4 linked regions of the Homo sapiens genome follow. The protein of the gene in region 3 purifies or fractionates together with the protein of the main gene of each other region. This does not show direct contact. Each region holds a gene or a part of one and is shown on either strand. Other genes may lie near its edges.

Region 1 (3,500 bases), on a different chromosome or scaffold from region 3:
GTCTGAGATCCACCTGTGAGGCTGCAGCCTGGAGGGGGAGGGGCGTCCGCCATTGCTGAGGCTTGAATAGGTAAACAAAGTGGCTGAGAAGCTCGAACTGGGCAGAGCCCACCACAGCTCAGCAAGGCCTACTGCCTCTATAGACTCCACCTCTGTGGGCATGGCATAGCTGAACAAAAGGCAGCAGAAACTTTGGCAGACTTAAACGTCCTTGTCTGACAGCTCTTAAGAGAGCAGTAGTTCTCCCAGCATGGCGTTTGAGCTCTGAGAAAGGACAGACTGCTCCTCAAGTGGGTCCCTGACCCTCATGTAGCCTAACTGGAGACACCTCCCAGTAGGGGCCGACAGACACCTTATACAGGCGGGTGACCCTCTGGCACGAAGCTCCCAGAGGAAGGATCAGGCAGCAATATTTGCTGTTCTGCAGCCTCCATTGGTGATACCCAGGGAAACAGGGTTTGGAGTGGAGCTCCAGCAAATTCCAACAGACCTGCAGCTGAGTGACCTGACTGTTAGAAGGAAAACTAACAAACAGAAAGGAATAGCATCAACATCAACAGAAAGGACATCACACCAAAACCCCATCTGTAGGTTACCAACATCAAAGACCAAAGGTAGATAAAACCACAAAGATGGGGAGAAACCAGAGCAGAAAGCCTGAAAATTCTAAAAACCAGCGTGCCTCTTCTCCTCCAAAGGATCACAGCTCCTCGCCAGCAACAGAACAAAGCTGGATGGAGAATGACTTTGACAAGTTGACAGAAGTAGGCTTCAGAAGGTTGGTAATAAAAAACTTCTCTGAGCTAAAGGAACATGTTCTAACCCATCGCAAGGAAGCTAAAAACCTTGAAAAAAGGTTAGATGAATGACTAACTAGAATAAACAGTGTAGAGAAGACCTTAAATGCCCTGACGGAGCTGAAAAACCATGGCACGAGAACTTCATGACATACGCACAAGCTTCAATAGCCAAATCAATCAATTGGAAGAAAGGATATCAGTGATTGAAGATCAAATTAATGAAATAAAGTGAGAAGACAAGGTTAGAGAAAAAAAGAGTAAAAAGAAATGAACAAAGCCTCCAAATAACATGGGACTATGTGAAAAGACCAAATCTACATTTGACTGGAGTACCTGAAAGTGACAGGGAGAATGGAACCAAGTTGGAAAACACTCTGCAGGATATTATCCAGGAGAACTTCCCCAACCTAGCAAGGCAGGCCAACATTCAAATTTAGGAAATACAGAGAATGCCACAAAGATACTCCTCGAGAAGAGCAACTCCAAGACACATAATTGTCAGATTCACCAAAGTTGAAATGAAGGAAAAAATGTAAAGGGCAGCCAGAGAGAAAGGTCGGGTTACCGACAAAGGGAAGCCCATCAGACTAACAGCAGATCCCTCGGCAGAAACCCTACAAGCCAGAAGAGAGTGGGAGCCAATATTCAACATTCTTAAAGAAAAGAATTTTCAACCTAGAATTTCATATCCAGCCAAACTAAGCTTCATAAGTGAAGGAGAAATAAAATCCTTTACAGACAAACAAATGCTGGGAGATTTTGTCACCACCAGGCCTGCCTTATAAGAGCTCCTGAAGGAAGCACTAAACATGGAAAGGAACAACTGGTACCAGCCACTGCAAAAACATGACAAATTGTAAAGACTGTCAATGCTAGGAAGAAACTGCATCAATTAACGGGCAAAATAACCACCTAACATCATAATGACAGGATCAAATTCACACATAACAATATTAACCTTAAATGTAAATGGGCTAAATGCCCCAATTAAAAGACACAGACTGACAAATTGGATAAAGAGTCAAGACCCATCAGTGTGCTGTATTCAGGAGACCCATCTCACGTGCAGTGACGTACATAGGCTCAAAATAAAGGGATGAAGAGAGATCTACCAAGCAAATGGAAAGCAAAAAAAAGCAGAAGTTGCAATCCTAGTCTTTGATAAAACAGACTTTAAACCAACAAAGATCAAAAGAGACAAAGAAGGCCATTACATAATGGTAAAGGGATCCATTCAACAAGAAGAGCTAACTATCCTAAATATATATGCACCTAATACAGGAGCACCCAGATTCATAAAGCAAGTCCTTAGAGACCTACAAAGAGACTTAGACTCCCACTCAATAATAATGGGAGACTTTCACACCCCACTGTCAACATTAGACAGATCAACAAGACAGAAGGTTAACAAGGATATCCAGGAATTGAACTCAGCTCTGCACCAAGCAGACCTAATAGACATCTACAGAACTCTCCACCCCAAATCAACAGAATATACATTCTTCTCAGCACCACATCACACTTATTCCAAAATTGACCACATAGTTGGAAGTAAAGCACTCCTCAGCAAATGTAAAAGAACAGAAAGCACAACAAACCGTCTCTCAGACACAGGGCAATCAAATTAGAACTCAGGATTAAGAAACTCACTAAAAACTGCACAACTACATGAAAACTGAAAAACCTGCTCCTGAATGACTACTGGGTAAATATCGAAATGAAGGCAGAAATAAAGATGTTCTTTGAAACCAATGAGAACAAAGACACAACATACCAGAATCTCTGGAACACATTTAAAGCAGTGCGTAGAGGGAAATTTATAGCACTAAATGCCCACAAGAGAAAGCAGGAAAGATCTAAAATTGACACCCTAACATCACAATTAAAAGAACTAGAGAAACAAGAGCAAACACATTCACAAGCTAGCAGAAGGTAAGAAATAACTAAGATCAGAGCAGAACTGAAGGAGATAGAGACACAAAAAACCCTTCAAAAAAAATCAGTGAATCCAGGAGCTGGTTTTTTGAAAAGATCAATAAAATTGATAGACCGCTAGCAAGACTAATAAAGAAGAAAAGAGAGAAGAATCAAATAGACACAATAAAAAATGATATAGGAGATATCACCACCGATCCCACAGAAATACAAACTACCATCAGAGAATACTATAAACACTTCTATGCAAATAAACTAGAAAATCTAGAAGAAATGGATAAATTCCTGGACACACACATCCTCCCAAGACTAAACCAGGAAGAAGTTGAATCCCTGAACAGACCAATAACAGGCTCTGAAATTGAGGCAATAATTAATAGCCTACCAACCAAAAAAAGGCCAGGACCGGACGGATTCACAGCCGAATTCTACCAGAGGTACAAAGAGGAGCTGGTACTATTCCTTCTGAAACTATTCCACTCAATAGAAAAAGAGGGAATCCTCCCTAACTCATTTTATGAGGCCAGCATCATCCTGATACCAAAGCCTGGCAGAGACACAACAAAAAAAGAGAATTTTAGACCAATATCCCTGATGAACATCGATGCAAAAATCCTCAATAAAATACTGGCAAACTGAATCCAGTAGCATGTCAAAAAGCTTATCCACCACGATCAAGTGGGCTTCATCCTAGGGATGCAAGGCTGGTTCAACATACATAAATCAATAAATGTAATCCAGCATATAAACAGAACCAAAGACAAA
Region 2 (2,616 bases), on a different chromosome or scaffold from region 3:
TACACTAACCCCTGGCCTGAAAGGAAAGAGTGCTCTGAAGACCAGGGATTTCTGGCATTGGAAGCGAATGCTATTCCCACGCAGAATAAATTAGGAGCTGAGGTGTACTGGCTGGTGACACTCAGATTCTAGTGTGGCAGTACTAGCTTCAACTCTCTAAATAAATTTCAAGGCTTTGTGAAAATAACCTCTCTTCTCATTCAAGGGTATGTTTACTGGTTCCATTCAACAAATATTTACTGAGCACTTCCTAACTGTAAAAGGATAGTGTTTGCATCTAGAGGACTAGAGACATGCCTGCACATCCCTCACCTTCAAAGGTGAACTCTACACAGGATTCTTGTCCTAGTCATTGTGGCAACCCCATCTGACACCTTGTGTAGTACCTAGCTTTATAGCAGGCATTAGAAATGGATTGGAACCTAACCAGAGATGGTCTGTATGCTCAGTGGAGTTCCTGGCTCTTAATTGTTTTAAGAAAATTCATTTTTTCCACACAGTTTTTTTTTTGATACATATATTTATTATGCTGTAAAAAGCAACACTACCTGATTGCATTTAAAATAAATGTTTCCCAATTTCAGAATACTTACAACTTGTAGTTTTAAGATTAGATTCACTTTGGGAGGTTTTAGAAGCAAATACATTCATAGCTGTGTAATCCCCAGGAAGAATCTAAATCTGACATCAGGTCATTCAGTCCCTGCCAGACAGACAACAGCATCAAATGGTCAACAGCTAATCCAGCTCTGCAGCTAAAGGGCAGTGTCGGGCAGCAGTGGGGTATAGCATATTACCAAAGATGAGACCAGCAAAAACAACAATGTGTATAAAGCTTTAAATTAACATGATCATATAGAGCGCTCAGGATACAGAAAAAGCACATATGATACTAAAGCCAAAACAAAAAGATCTTTGGAGTTTACTGACGGCAGCAGTTAATAGCACAGTCAACAGCATTTAAATCAAATATATTATTACCAGCCAACAGCAAACAGCCCGAGCAGGAATCGGCACATAGTCATAAATAACATCAGGGGTAAATAACGGCACATTTAATTAAACAACAAAGATTTTACAGAATGGTTTTGATCTGAAAAAAGATGAAAACTCTCTTTGTTCCCAAATAATGGTTAGAACCTCTTTTTATTATAGAAAAGCCTCAAAATCATTGGTAATCTTCAAGTCACACAATTCAACTGTCTTGTTTCATTTTAGTCACACAAAGCGGGCTGCTCTTTGAATAAAGTTATCTTGATTGATTTCAGTTAAAACGTGTCTACCCTGTAATATCTTTGGGGATAATGCTGCTCCTGTGCAGCATCTTACAAATGCTACCTGTCTCCATGGCTTGCTAGATCCACGGGGTAGGAAACTGCTCACTCAGCATCCTCCCCATGGAAGCTCAAGCATGGGAACAGCTTCGGGCCTGGTGCAGCTAAGGAACATTGGCCGTGGTTTCACCAAAGGAGGTGCCATCTAGGTAATGGGAGGGCAGTGGCAGGAGCCACTGGCTTAGACTGGAAGTGAAAATGAAAGCACCTGGAGGCTGCTGGAGTAAGGTGCCATCAGGCATGTAAAGTTTAGAAGCAGCAGAGTGTGCTCATAGAAAAAGAAAAAAAAAGGAATTTGCTGTATGTGATAACAACTAACATTCATGTACTTGAGCTCATTTCACTAAACACAGCTTCAGAGAAGTCCATTTGTGTGCATGTGTGTGTGTGCTTAATATCAGAACTCCTCACTAACATGCCACTTTATCTCGAGGTATGACAGGATAAAATGTATGTGTAACTCCTAGAAAATCCTGTTCTATCCGTTTTTTGAAGCCCCTTTTACCCACTTTCCAAATGAATCCTGAATTACCAACCCAAGACAAAGAATTATAGGTCACAATTTAAAATGAAATGGCCTTTTTCTTATTATTAAACTACAGAGCCCACCAAGAATTACACAATAGAAAAATCACAAGAAATCTGGAATGATCCAGTGGTCCCCCAAGGAGGACAAATCTCTTGATGCAGACTCTTAATGACAGGCTTGGAAACAAATGTTTGTTAGTTGTAGCAGTTCCCATACTTTCAGAATAACTTTGGTAGCTTAGAGCATTTCTGAATTTATCTTTACCCTAGAAGCTAAAAAAAAAAAACTTCTTAAAGAGCTGCAGTTGCACATCCCTTCGTTTTTTAGACTGATAAACTTGACTAATTTATACTTAGTAATTTTGTCTCTGGTTCGTCTTCTGTAGACAAATGGCAAAGTTCTGATGCCAGAAATAGGAGGCATTTTCTGACTTACTATGGAAAACATAAAAACTGCATAGTATGCCAGCTCTCACTTTCCCAGCTAAAGGAAAGAGGCAGATAGCTAAATGTCTGAGAAGAGAGGCTGGACTAAGGGGATATAGAAAAAGGAAAATTTTTCAAAAGCATTATAACTACATTCACACATACGTTTTGGTCACCAAACATATCTTAAACAGATTCCCTGATAAAGTCTAATCAGAATTGGTCTATCTTACTAACAGTTGTTAACTATTATAGTTTTTTAAGAGTCACATCATGAAGCTAGGGGGTGAGAGAGACATTTTAAACACACAACCGTAAGTGCATATAG
Region 3 (4,057 bases):
TCGGCCTCCCAAAGTGCTGGGATTACAGGTGTGAGCCACCATGCCCAGCCAATCTGAGCTATTTAAAAACTAAAGGTAAAATTTTAAAAGGGGAAGGGGAAAATGGGAAGTCATTGTTTTAAGGGGACAGAGTTTCTGTTTGGGGTGAGAAAACTCTAGAAATAGTGGGGGCGTGGCACATGATTGGAATGAATGGCAGGGAACGGCACGCTTAAATGTTCCTGTACGTTTCACAGGAGAAGTCAATGCACACACAAGCGCCGCAACCCAGTCCAAGGCTTTGCTCCTACAGGGCCTTACAGGGGGTATTTGAGACGCCCACCTTAATGCAGGTTGGACCCAGCTCCGGGCTGCGGGGCTTCCCCGCCCCGGGGTCTTTCGTGTGAGCCCCGTGGCGGGGGATCCTGGCCCAGGACATGGCGCGGAGAAGGCTGTGGGCGGCGGGACAGGGTGCCTTCGGCTGCCGGGTTAAGAGTGGATCCCGGGATACATCCTCCAGCGCCTGCCCTCGGGCCTGTGTGCACCCCCATACCCAGCGGGGCCGTCCAAGAGCTTCAAGGAGGGCACAGCGCGACCCGCCCTCCCCTCAGCCCCGCACACCGTCCCACGGCCCCGCACAGCCTCCCTCCCACACAGCGCCCCACGGCACCCGCACAGCGCCCCACGGCCCCTTCATGGTCCCCGCACAGCGCCTCACAACCCGCACACAGCGCCTCACGGACCCTTTACGGCCCCCGCAGAGTCTCCCACACGGCGCCCCACACAGAGCCTCACGGACCCCGCACAGCGCCTCAAGGTCTCCGCACAGCCCCCAGCACAGCGCCTCACACAGCCCTTCGCACAGCCCCCCGCACAGCTCCTCACGGGCCCCACACAGCTGCCGCACAGCCCCGCACAAGCCCGCACAGCACCAGCAGACAGGTAGCCCCCACAGGCAACAGCGCCCACCTCGCCGCGCCCAGACCCCGGATCGCCGACGCGGACGCCAGGCGCCTGGGCACACGGCGCCTGCGCAGACAACACCACGCCCCAGGCCTGGCGAGCGCACCCTGCGGGTGGGGCGGACCTACGTCAGCAACCCATCGTCCGATCCCGTCCATTGGCTGAGAGGTAATGCGTGCGCCCGACTCGCCGCTGATTGGTCGGCGCGCGAGCAGCCGGGCTCGCACGGGCCAATCCTGTGGTAGCGCGTGAGGAGGCAGAGGCCTCTGGGGTGGGATCGCGGGCCGTAAGTGGCTGTGGAGCTGGGGTCACTGCGCGGTGGGACCATGGCCTCGGAGAAGCCGCTGGCGGCAGTCACTTGTACAGCGCCGGTCAACATCGCGGTCATCAAGTACTGTGAGTGCCGCGGGCCGGCCTGGGACGGGGATGGCCGGGAGCGAGGCCGGGTACGCGGGGGTCGCGCGCTGATTCGGCGGCGCGCTCCGTCCTGCCCTCCCAGGGCCTCGACAGACGGGGAAACTGAGGCTCAGGGAGGGGCGCGGCGGTGGTCGGGCGGGGCCGCGCGCTCCTTCGCGTGACAAGCTCGGCGCCACCCGTTCCCCCGCGACGGCTGCCGCCCCTGCAGGGTCGCCCGGCGCCTGCCCATTAGCGATTACCGAACTATCGAAATCATCAATCATCGATTCCCATGAATCGTAAGAATCCGCCGTGGTGGTGCGCGTTTGTGGCTCCAGCTACTCGGGAGGCTGAGGCGGGAGGATGGCCAGAGCCCGGGAGGTCGAGGCTGCAGTGAGCGGAAATCGCGCCACTGCTCCCCCAGCCCGAGACCCTGTGTCCCTCCCTCGCCCCGTTTCTCCCAGCGGTAACCTCCAAGGAGCGGTAATGGGGGGCCCGCAGGCCCACATCCGTGCCGGGGAGGCCGGTCCGCACCTGTGCGTTCACAGCCCCGCCCCTCCCCTCGCGCCGGGGTTACCTGGCCGCCACTGACCACTCATTTCTGTAACGTCATTTCAAAATGTTCTGAAACTGGAATCGCAGTTATGTGGCCCACCCAGTATCTTTTGAGTTTGGCTTATTTCATTCAGCATAGAATGTGGACGTGCCCCGGGATTGTATCAGTGCTTTGCCCCTCTGTTGCTGAGCCAGTCCGTGGAATCCATGGACCACCCTCTCTCTAGCCAAGGCCTCACCCCGCAAAGAGCATCTAACGTTTTCTTTCTTTCTTTCTTTTCTTTCCAGAAGCCGCCACCACGACTGGCTAATTTTTTTGTGTTTCCCTTACCAATAAAGCTGCCATAAAATGTTGTATACAGGTTTTTGTGTGAACATACATTTCCATTCTTCTGGGATAAATGCCCAGGAGTGCGGTTGCTGGGTCAGATGGTAGATATATATATATGCCTCTCTGTCTCTCTCTCTCTTTCTATGTATATATGTATGTTTGTGTGTGTGTATATATATATACACCTGTATAGATATATGTGTGTGTATATGTATACACCTATATAGATGTATGTGTGTGTATATATACATATATATATTATATATATACTTTTTTTTTTTAAAGAAACTGTCTAATTGTTTTTCAGAGTGGCTGGGCCATTTTGCATCCCTACGGTGATGCAGATTTTCCGCATCCTCACCAGCATTTGGTGGAGTTGCTGTTTTTCATTTTAGCCGCGTCCTGGTAGGGATGTGCTGGCAGGGTGCTGTGGTCCTCATTCGCGTTTCCCTGTTGGCCAGTGACGTGGAGCATCTTTCTTTGTGCTTATTTGCCATCTGTGGGTTTTCTTGGTGAAATCTCTCTTCATATTCTGTGTCCACGCTCGAACTGGATGGTTTGCTTTTTTACTATAAGTTTGGAGAGTTCATTACACATTCTAGGCTGGGCACGCTGGCTCAAGCCTGTAATCCCAGCACTTGGGGAGGCTGAGGTGGGCGGATCACCTGAGGTCAGGAGTTTGAGACCAGCTTGGCCAACATGGTGAAACCCCCGTCTCTACTGAAAAAAAATAAAATATGTATTCTAGATATTAGTCTCCTGTTGGACATGTGGTTTGCAGGTATTGTCTCCCAAACTAGCTAATCTTTTTGTCCTCTTAACAAAGAGCCAGTTTTTCATTTTAAAGAAGTTCAGTGTATCAATGTTGATGTCAAGTCTAAGACCTCTTTGCTTAGCCCTATGTCCTGAAGATTGTCTGCTTTCCTCCAAGTTGTACAGGATTGCCTTTTATATTTAAGTCTGTGATCCAAGGTTGTCCAGTTAGCCCAGAAAGGCTATCCTTCCTCTATTGAATTGCTTTTGCACTTTTGTAAAAAAAAAAATCAGCTGGGCATGTTTGTGTGGGTCTATTTCTGGATTTTCTCTTCTGCTATTTTTTTTTTTTTTTTTTTTTTTTTTGAGACAGAGTCTTGCTCTGTCACCCAGGCTGGAGTGCAGTGGCACAATCTTGGCTCACTGTAACCTCCGCCTCCTGGGTTCAAGCAATTCTCCTGCCTTAGTCTTCTGAGTATTTGGGACTACATGCACGTGCCACCACACTTGGCTAATTTTTGTATTTTTAGTAGAGATGGGGTTTCACCGTGTTAGCCAGGCTGGTCTGAAGCTCCTGACCTCGTGATCTGCCCACCTCAGCCTCCCAAAGTGCTGGGATTACAGGTGTGAGCCACCGCGTCTGGCCTTTTATTTTTATTTTTTATATTTATTTATTTTATATTTATATTTTTATATTTATTTGTATTACTTTTATATTTATTTTTTTGAGACAGACTGTCACTGCGACACCCAGGCTGGAGTGCAATGGCGTGATCTCGGCTCACTGCAACCTCCGCTTCCCGGGTTCAACCGATTCTCCTGCCTCAGCCTCTCGAGTAGCTGGGACTACAGGTGTGCGCCACCACACCTGGCTAATTTTTGTACTTTTAGTGGAGACGGGGTTTTGCCATATTGGCCAGGCTGGTCTTAAACTCCTGACCTCAAGTGATCTGCCTGCTTCGGCCTCCCAAAGTGCTGGGATCGTAGGTGTGAGCCACTGAGGCTCACCAACAGTGATATTTATGGAAACGTGTCCATTTTCTTGTAACGTTCAGAGACTCTGGTCTTCTTTAAACCTTA
Region 4 (3,500 bases), on a different chromosome or scaffold from region 3:
CAGCTTTAGGGAACACAGTCTGAAAACCACTGATTGACACTAACGCAGCCTGCAATTTTAACAGTTTACTCATTCAAAGCGAGAGCCACAAGATTCATGAAGAAATAATTTATTTCTACAACAACTAAGCAGAATGTTATTGCTGGAAAGGACCTTAGAATACAGTCCAGTGGTTTTCAAATGCTCTATTTTCAATTCAGTGAAATCTTCTTTCCCTCTAGGAAGAAGTTTGAAAAAACACTTGTCTAACTCCACATCTTGGATTGACAGAAAAGGAAACTGAGGCCTATAGAAGCTCTTTGACTTGTCTATGACCACACGGCCAGTTGGTAGCACTAAAACAGCCAGAGCTCAGGTCTTCTGACTGAGTTTAGCATATTCTATTCTCCACTGACAGAACTATTCTTATTCTCCATGACACTGTTCCAAACCTTAACTCTATCCCCTGCTACTCCAATGTCACCCTCCAGCCTTTCAGTATAAGAACTGGCCTCTAATTTAGAAATAAAGACTATCATGCATAAACGGCTAAACTTCCTTGCTCTTAAACTTCTGTCAACTTCATTCATCCCATAGCACTTTCTTTCTGACTGATAGGAAGAGATACTCCCTCCTCTGGCCTCTTCCCACCTTCCTTTAGTACTCTTCTCTACCAATATGTCCATTTCTGCATTTCTAATCCTCTTATCCTCAAATCCTTCCCCTTAGTCTATAAACAACCTCCAGAACCTCTTCTCAAAAGAAAAAAAAAAAATCCGTTTCTTTTAGCTGGCTGTCTCCCTGATGCATTCTTACCTTCCTTTCATTGCCAAACCCTTAGACAGTTAGTTCACACTTGCTTTCTTATTTTCTCCACTCACAACTGGTCTTCCACCTACTCAGTTGGCCCTAGGTCACAAATCCAGAAGTCTCTTTTCACTATTCATCCTAACTAGGGCTGTTTGAGGCTCTACAGACCTGAAATGCTCATTCTGCAGCTTTTACCATACTACTCCTTCCTGATCTTATGTCTATTGCTCTAACTGCTACATCTTGACCTTTTTACTGACTTACCCATTGAACAGTGGTATTCCCCAGGGCTCAATTCTTTTTTTATCCTTGCTGAACCAAATAAATTTGTGAACAATCTTATCCATTCGCAAGACTTTACCTACCAACTATACAATCCTGTTCAACCTTGATCAACAAAGCTGTCCACCTGTCTATTGGACTTTAGCCCAGAACCCTTCTTCCTTACTACATCTTAAATCAAACTCATTGTTTTTAACATGAAACCAACTCCTATGTTCCTTATATTGACCAAAGGCACCACCAAGTTTCCAAATGTGAAAAACTTAGTCTCATCAATTTTACTTTGCAAATTTTACTAAGTCCATCCCATTCTCTCCACTCCTAAAGCCATTACTCTGATCAAGGCCTTCATCTTCCTGGCTCTGGACAATTCTAACAGTCCCTAACTCACCCCCCTGCCTTTAGTTTCACTATCCCACAATGCAAGCACGATTTACTTTCTAAAACAAGATCTCACCGTATCATTTATCTGCTTAAAAGTCATCTAGAAAATAAAGCTTAGGCTCCTCTTACGGCCCTTCACAATCTAACAACATCCAATTTTTTAGTCTCATTTCTTACCATGCTCTTCTCCTTATATAATTCCTCTAGTCTGTATTTTGTAAACACACCAAGCTCATTACGATGTCTGGGCTTTTGTACTTGCTATTCTGCTGGGAGTATTCTGCCTCCTACTATTCACACGACTGACTCCTCATCATTCAGGACTTACCTCAAAGGTTACCTCTTCATGCCAGATCACTGCAATTAAGTAACTCTGCCCAATTACATTCTAACATTACACCATCTTATTGTCCTGACAGCATTTCTCACGACCTGAAATGACCTTGTTTCTTTGTTAACTGTCATTCTTCCCCACTAGACTGTAAACTCCAGGCCTATCTTGGTCCCCACAGTAATGTGATATGGCCTAGCACAACTGGCATAGGGCAGGTGCTCAATAAAAACTCACTGAGGGACTTAATGAATGACTGTATTATCACACCTCTATGTCTTTTTTTTTTTTTTTTTAAGATGGAGTTTCACTCTTGTTGCCCAGGCTGGAGTGCAATGGCACAATCTTGGCTCACTGCAAACTCCACCTTCCAGGTTCAAGCAATTCTCCTGCTTCATCCTCCCGAGTAGCTGGGCTTACAGGCATGCACCACCACACCCAGCTAATTTTGTATTTTTAGTAGAGACAGGGTTTCTCCATGTTGGTCAGGCTGGTCTCGAACTCCTGACCTTAGGTGATCCGACCACCTCGGCCTCCCAAAGTGCTGCAATTATAGGTGTGAGACACTGAGCTTGGCCACCTCTACGTCTTTATTGCCTCTACCTAGCACTCCCACATTTAACCATCACTTCCCAAAGCTCCTGAAACCCTACTCATCTGTCAAGGCCTGATTCAAATTTTCCCTCATCCATAATGCCTTTCTAGCCCTCCCAAGCCAGACCAATCACTCTTTTTCTGTGTCCTAAGACCACTTTGTTCATAGTGGGGCCATGGCCTGAGCTCTCTGTCTCTGATACTAAACGACGAGCTGCTTGAGCTCCTTGTCCCAGTTACCTTATACTCAGTGACTGACACAAATGCCCAACCAATGAGACCCGGGTTTGTATCATAGCTCTACCTTAGACAAGTTACCTAACCTCTCTAAGGCTCAGTTTCCTTAATAATAACAGTATCTAATCACAGTCATTATTTCATAGGACTTCTGTAAATATTAAATGAAAAATGACTGTAAAACCACTAAAATAGTAGCTGGTACACAGTACAAGTTAGCTGTTATCAGTTTTACTAATATAATTATAAAAGATACATACCTAAGATTGCCATTATCTTGAAGAATCTGCATCAGGTTAAATTTAGGCTCTAGCTCCTGAGTCTCAAGTTTGCAGCAGTGTCCACCTTTATTATTCCATTCACGAACTTTCATGGAATTTTCTTTGGGTGTATTTTCTACCAAAGCTGTCAATGAGGGTGTATATTTGGCTTGATTTTCTCTAAGAAATCCTGCAGACTCCTCCTGGGAAGCCTCCTGTTCTTCATCTTCATTATCTAATGCGACTTCTTCCTCCTCTTCACTCTCTGTCTCAGTTTTAACATTCATTTCAGCTGGTTGGGTAATCACTAAATACGAAGAATCACTAATGTTGCTGAAAAAAGGATTAAATGTTCCTCTCTCCCAATACCTTCCTTTTCTCTTTTTAGTAAAAGCCCATTTCTAAACCAAACCACAAACAAGGCACAGAATTAATAGCACCCACATGTCACTCTCTAATCTCATATATTCTTTTATTTATTTTTGTTTTCATTTATTATCATTTTTTGATTCAGGGTCTCGCTCTGTTGCCCAGGCTGGAGGGCAGTGGCAGGATCTCGGCTCATTACAGCTCGACATCCTGGGGTCAAGTAGTCCTCCAACCTCAGCCTTCCAAGTAGCTGG

Evidence for each region. The genes of interacting proteins can lie anywhere in the genome.
Region 1: the proteins of MVD (region 3) and NSDHL purify together in Homo sapiens (affinity purification with mass spectrometry; one large-scale study listed by BioGRID and IntAct). This does not show direct contact.
Region 2: the proteins of MVD (region 3) and GLS fractionate together in Homo sapiens (co-fractionation; one large-scale study listed by BioGRID). This does not show direct contact.
Region 4: the proteins of MVD (region 3) and TTLL5 purify together in Homo sapiens (affinity purification with mass spectrometry; one large-scale study listed by BioGRID and IntAct). This does not show direct contact.

What each region holds. Positions count from the first base shown.
Region 1 is NC_000023.11:152,837,563-152,841,062, reverse strand, and holds part of NSDHL (sterol-4-alpha-carboxylate 3-dehydrogenase, decarboxylating), read right to left. Parts: intron 1-3,500. UniProt on the Homo sapiens protein: Catalyzes the NAD(P)(+)-dependent oxidative decarboxylation of the C4 methyl groups of 4-alpha-carboxysterols in post-squalene cholesterol biosynthesis. Also plays a role in the regulation of the endocytic trafficking of EGFR.
Region 2 is NC_000002.12:190,963,437-190,966,052, reverse strand, and holds the end of GLS (glutaminase kidney isoform, mitochondrial isoform 1 precursor), read right to left. Parts: 3' UTR 501-2,616; downstream 1-500. UniProt on the Homo sapiens protein: Catalyzes the first reaction in the primary pathway for the renal catabolism of glutamine. Plays a role in maintaining acid-base homeostasis. Regulates the levels of the neurotransmitter glutamate, the main excitatory neurotransmitter in the brain.
Region 3 is NC_000016.10:88,660,292-88,664,348, reverse strand, and holds the start of MVD (diphosphomevalonate decarboxylase), read left to right. Parts: upstream 1-1,257; 5' UTR 1,258-1,268; coding exon 1,269-1,338; intron 1,339-1,567; exon of another isoform or gene 1,568-1,630; coding exon of another isoform or gene 1,631-1,637; intron 1,638-3,711; exon of another isoform or gene 3,712-3,829; intron 3,830-4,057. UniProt on the Homo sapiens protein: Catalyzes the ATP dependent decarboxylation of (R)-5-diphosphomevalonate to form isopentenyl diphosphate (IPP).
Region 4 is NC_000014.9:75,765,746-75,769,245, reverse strand, and holds part of TTLL5 (tubulin polyglutamylase TTLL5), read right to left. Parts: intron 3,185-3,500; coding exon 2,878-3,184; intron 1-2,877. UniProt on the Homo sapiens protein: Polyglutamylase which modifies tubulin, generating polyglutamate side chains on the gamma-carboxyl group of specific glutamate residues within the C-terminal tail of tubulin.